2 linked regions of the Homo sapiens genome follow. The protein of the gene in region 1 interacts with the protein of each later gene in a pairwise test. Each region holds a gene or a part of one and is shown on either strand. Other genes may lie near its edges.

The links. The genes of interacting proteins can lie anywhere in the genome.
Region 2: the proteins of MSX2 (region 1) and SOX5 interact in binary tests that used the Homo sapiens proteins (3 or more experiments, as listed by UniProt).

What each region holds. Positions count from the first base shown.
Region 1 is NC_000005.10:174,727,582-174,731,181, forward strand, and holds the end of MSX2 (homeobox protein MSX-2), read left to right. Parts: intron 1-1,577; coding exon 1,578-2,002; 3' UTR 2,003-3,315; downstream 3,316-3,600. UniProt on the Homo sapiens protein: Acts as a transcriptional regulator in bone development. Represses the ALPL promoter activity and antagonizes the stimulatory effect of DLX5 on ALPL expression during osteoblast differentiation. Probable morphogenetic role.
Region 2 is NC_000012.12:23,528,867-23,531,440, forward strand, and holds the end of SOX5 (transcription factor SOX-5), read right to left. Parts: 3' UTR 638-2,574; downstream 1-637.

The DNA of each region.
Region 1 (3,600 bases):
ACAGTGTTGTTAATTTGTAAATTAAGAAGCTGGCTCCCCGGCTGTCTAGTAACTTAGGGATTAGCAAATGCAAAAGTATAGACTTTTATGGTAGTTTCTTATCCTTCCCTTTCCCAGATTTCTGTTCTTTGGTTGGTTACAAAGCCTCTTATCTCTTTTTGATTCAGTAAAGTGATGGGTAATAATGCGACACTGGAACAAATCCATCTCTTGTTGGAAATGGAAGCTGGGTTGGGACTTGTGCTGTGTCACCCTCAAGTATGAAGTGTAAACTCTTTCTTGGGCCACCAAAGTAACTAAACAAGAAATGCAACATTCTCCCATGAATACATTAGAGTTAATACTGTGGCCACATTTGGAAAATTAGCATAGCTCGTAAAAGCCAAATGCAGAAAATTAATTGTTAAGTATTCTATCACCACAGCTCTATCCTCCTCCGCCCACCCACCCTTGAGGAAGACAAGCCCAAAGTTAGTTGATGCTATGGAATCACAAGGATGTCCCAGTCCGTGATTTGCTGTAATTGAATCCATTTTAAATGTGGAGTCTGGATGCTGTTGGCATACCTTTATTTTGCTTGTTTTTCCCCCTGACAAACAAATCATTTACACATTTGCCCGAAGCCATAGAATGGGTAGAGGGGATGACTAAGATGTCATCACGTGCTCTCAATTTGGAGGCAGCATGATTTCCCCTGACATTTACATTTATGGGCTAGCTAATTTTTCCCTTCGTCTTAGTAAAGTTTATATTACAGAAGCGCCCAGCCAAGAACCTTATCCCACATCCAGATCTGTAAAATGATGTTCAGATTTTATAATCTGTGGACTGGATGCAATGACAGCTTGTGACTGTTTATTGCGTGGGACTGCCCCCAAATTCAAAGATGCTATTAATTTACCACAGACCTTATCTGCACGATTATCCTTCATAAATATGCTGACGCAATCCACTTTTTCTGGTTCAGAGAGGAGACCAAGGGAAACAGCTAACCCGGTTGCTAAAACCTTTTTCATTTTCCTTCCCATATGTGATTGTCTCCATGTCCAAGGGAGGCTGGGCTAATCATGAACCTGGTCTCCCATTTTTAAAGAGAAGATAAATTATGCTCAGAAGAGATAGCGGTTCATTTCTCACCGACCACTTGATTCCCTTGTCTTACATTAAATGTTCTATTTCTGTTATCTCTAATGCTGTTTGTTTTCCATATAGAAGGTTCAGTTACACCATTACATTTCCAAAACTTTTCTTAAAAAACTCATTTTTAAAAAACGAAGCAACTTACCCATTTATATATGGTCCCCCTCCCCCCAAGAAACACACATAGTTTTGACAAAGGTACCTTTTTCAAAGATGAAACAAAGTATGTCTTTCCATACATAGATATGTGTGTGTGTGTGTGTGTGTGTGTGTGTATATGTATGTATATATAGATTTTTTTAAAGCTAAGTGCTTTCAGTTGAGAGGGGAGGCCCGAAAGGAAAAAACCTAGAGAGATGACGGGGGAGATGGGTTTTTTTTAGTATTATTTTAATGTAACTTTCTTTTGCTAATCCGCTCCTCTCTCTGTTCTCTAGGACATATGAGCCCTACCACCTGCACCCTGAGGAAACACAAGACCAATCGGAAGCCGCGCACGCCCTTTACCACATCCCAGCTCCTCGCCCTGGAGCGCAAGTTCCGTCAGAAACAGTACCTCTCCATTGCAGAGCGTGCAGAGTTCTCCAGCTCTCTGAACCTCACAGAGACCCAGGTCAAAATCTGGTTCCAGAACCGAAGGGCCAAGGCGAAAAGACTGCAGGAGGCAGAACTGGAAAAGCTGAAAATGGCTGCAAAACCTATGCTGCCCTCCAGCTTCAGTCTCCCTTTCCCCATCAGCTCGCCCCTGCAGGCAGCGTCCATATATGGAGCATCCTACCCGTTCCATAGACCTGTGCTTCCCATCCCGCCTGTGGGACTCTATGCCACGCCAGTGGGATATGGCATGTACCACCTGTCCTAAGGAAGACCAGATCAATAGACTCCATGATGGATGCTTGTTTCAAAGGGTTTCCTCTCCCTCTCCACGAAGGCAGTACCAGCCAGTACTCCTGCTCTGCTAACCCTGCGTGCACCACCCTAAGCGGCTAGGCTGACAGGGCCACACGACATAGCTGAAATTTGTTCTGTAGGCGGAGGCACCAAGCCCTGTTTTCTTGGTGTAATCTTCCAGATGCCCCCTTTTCCTTTCACAAAGATTGGCTCTGATGGTTTTTATGTATAAATATATATATATAATAAAATATAATACATTTTTATACAGCAGACGTAAAAATTCAAATTATTTTAAAAGGCAAAATTTATATACATATGTGCTTTTTTTCTATATCTCACCTTCCCAAAAGACACTGTGTAAGTCCATTTGTTGTATTTTCTTAAAGAGGGAGACAAATTATTTGCAAAATGTGCTAAAGTCAATGATTTTTACGGGATTATTGACTTCTGCTTATGGAAAACAAAGAAACAGACACAATGCACACAGAAAATATTAGATATGGAGAGATTATTCAAAGTGAAGGGGACACATCATATTTCTGCATTTTACTTGCATTAAAAGAAACCTCTTTATATACTACAGTTGTTCCTATCTCTCCCCCGCCCCCCACCGCCCCACCACACACATATTTTTAAAGTTTTTCCTTTTTTAAGAATATTTTTGTAAGACCAATACCTGGGATGAGAAGAATCCTGAGACTGCCTGGAGGTGAGGTAGAAAATTAGAAATACTTCCTAATTCTTCTCAAGGCTGTTGGTAACTTTATTTCAGATAATTGGAGAGTAAAATGTTAAAACCTGTTGAGAGGAATTGATGGTTTCTGAGAAATACTAGGTACATTCATCCTCACAGATTGCAAAGGTGATTTGGGTGGGGGTTTAGTAATTTTCTGCTTAAAAAATGAGTATCTTGTAACCATTACCTATATGCTAAATATTCTTGAACAATTAGTAGATCCAGAAAGAAAAAAAAATATGCTTTCTCTGTGTGTGTACCTGTTGTATGTCCTAAACTTATTAGAAAATTTTATATACTTTTTTACATGTTGGGGGGCAGAAGGTAAAGCCATGTTTTGACTTGGTGAAAATGGGATTGTCAAACAGCCCATTAAGTTCCCTGGTATTTCACCTTCCTGTCCATCTGTCCCCTCCCTCCGGTATACCTTTATCCCTTTGAAAGGGTGCTTGTACAATTTGATATATTTTATTGAAGAGTTATCTCTTATTCTGAATTAAATTAAGCATTTGTTTTATTGCAGTAAAGTTTGTCCAAACTCACAATTATTTTAAGAGGTGTTCTCTGTTCTTAGCTGGGCTTAGCTCGAAAGTGCTACCCACATGAGGGGGAAGCTGGTCTTTTTTAATATTTTAATGTAAGTCAACCAAGAGTTGTGGCCAGATTCAGCCATGTTGGGGTGATTGGTGGTGGTGGGGAGTGAACTGAAACTACTGAAATACTTTGAAATGTTTCCTCTGGCAGCTTGTTACTTATGGAAAAGAGGTGGAATTGCTGCGAGGAGTTTTTCAGAAAAAGTACAGTGAAAGATAAGCTTTAAATAAGTGGTG
Region 2 (2,574 bases), on another chromosome or scaffold:
AACTATTACATATAGAACTATCAAGGTAGAAAAACATATTATGGTGGAAGAGACAAGCAAAAATGGCCATTGAAAGGAAAGGAGACTTCTTGTTTTTAACATTCACTAAAAAAGTTTAAGGTAGAACTGAGAGGCTAATGTTAAACAATTCAGAAATATCCATTATTCAAAATGAGATACCAGCGAGGTGAAAATTATTCATAGTTCTTAGTAATTTCATGATCTGAAATTTATAAATCTTCTATACAAACGAAAGGATAAAGCACAATTCTAAAGCATAGAAACCCCCCATCCCCCACCCAAGGATAGTGTCCAGCCAGGGAAAACAACAATATTAAAGGTGCTTTAGACTGTTGGGTTTTCAATTGTGTTGAATCAATTACATATAAGAACAGTATCTTTTGACAGTATGGTGAAGCTAGATCTGTCTGAGTGAAATGCATTATATCAAGTCCTGACTGTCTTTCTGGGAATGTCCACAGCTAAAAATTAAACCTTTAGTTCTTAAAGTCAACTTCAATAAGAGGGATTATTTATATTAAAAACAAAATTAAATTTCCATACTTTTGTTCTTTTCATAATAAAACTAATTACACCCTCATAACAATAATTGTGAAAAGAAACACAGTATAATAAGTAAAGAACACATTTGCTGTTTTTATTGGTGCCTTGCATGGCAGTAATACTGAAAAAGGAGAATGCAAAAAAATAAAATAAAATAAACAAAAAACAAAAACGAAAAACAGGTTGGTGGCAACCCACATCTTTTTTTTAAGAGCACATAAACTCCTGTTTTATTTTTATTGTGGCATGAATGATAACATAAAACCAAAAACATGAAAATATACAACTTATATTACACTATGTGTTATGAACAAAATATAAATCTATAACTCTATGTTATATTTACATAATTACTTATTATTTTATTAAATTTCAAGTGAGATGGTAGGTTGCACATACTTTGTTTTAAGCTCCAGGCATTTGATTGTCTCTTTTCTATTTTTTTTCCATTTTTACTTGTAAAATCCAAAATATTAGAAGGACTAAGAGCTTTAGAGCCAGTGGAGCTATATAAATACTGTTTTAGTGAACCAGTGACGGAAACACTGGGGAGGACAGGAATCAATCAATCAGTAGGAAACTCAACACATCGTCTTCAACCTGGGAAGTTGATAGTTATAGGATACTTTAAAATTAAATACTGTAAAAGCCTGGCTAAACCAACAGCTATGCCCTACAAGACAAAGGGATACCTGAACCACTTTAAGTGGCCTTCATAGTTTTCCTTGCAGACCCCGTAAGTTTTATTTTATTATTAATTTGATAGACAAATACCTTATAAACCTGTTTGTAAATATACAGTTGTTTATTACAATTCAACAATTTACCCATTAGAATGAGTGAAAGTGTAATTATTTTTTATGTTTTAAATGTGATATAAGAGGTTTCTTCTGGGAACAGTCACAGCTTCTGGATTAAGAAAATATCTGAAGTTGGACCAAAAAATGGTTAATTTTCTTTAAGTGAATTAAGGTAAAATTCTACTCCGGAAATCAAATCTATAAAATAGCTTCACCACAGAAAACTTTTTTATATTTGTTCTTTATAAGAGGATTTGGTTCTAACGATGATTATGTTCTTTGGGAGGGATTTTATACATGGTTAACTCTTAACTGCAGATGCCAAATGAACTTCACAAATGGACTTCACTAATTTAGGTATAAATGTGCTGAAGAATAGTTTTATATTTTATCCAATTGTGGTAAGTTAATCACTAACTTATTATTAGTAACTATAAATGAGTAACTTTATTTTCTCCGGTAATGTTCTCTTAGATTCATATGAAAACAGGACTATTTTTAGAGAAACGGACTACAACAACTATAAAAACCAGAATTCTGGCAAGATTATTTCTCAGTGTTGGGGCAAGTGTGTGTGTGTGTGTGTGTGCGCGCGCGCGCGCGCGCATGTGAGAGAGAGAGAGAAAGGGAAAGAGATAAAGTGTGAACAGATAGGTAAGAAAGCAGACAGGAAGGAGACTGTTTATGTTTTAGTTTGATCTTTTGATCTTACTCTCATTTTCTTTATCTTTTTTGGTCATTATGGGGCACAGAAAAAGAATACAGGGTTTTAGGATCCTTTACCAAAATTATAAATCAACCAATGCCAAAAAGGCAATGTAGTAACACAGTAAGTTGCTATTCATAGCACCTTTTATCAAGTGACTTCAAAGCACTTTCAACATTAATATAACTATTTTTGCTTTTGTTTTCTTTTGGGGAAAACTAGGGCAAAGAAAATTTGATGTCCAGTGAATTAACCGTCAGAACAAGAGAACAGAATGCAGCGGTATGAACTTGCTTTTTGTTTCGGTTCATGCACAGTTTAGTCTCGGACATAAACCTAACTAAAATCAAATTTTGAATTTCAGCAGTTAAAAGTCACCATTAACAATTTTGTTTTCCCCTTCAAATAAAACAAAATATAACAAAAAAAAGACCAAACACCAAAGTGTTGTCAATTCATCGGTAAGTGTGTTAGAATTGATTTCAGCCATGAATGCCTTCAATG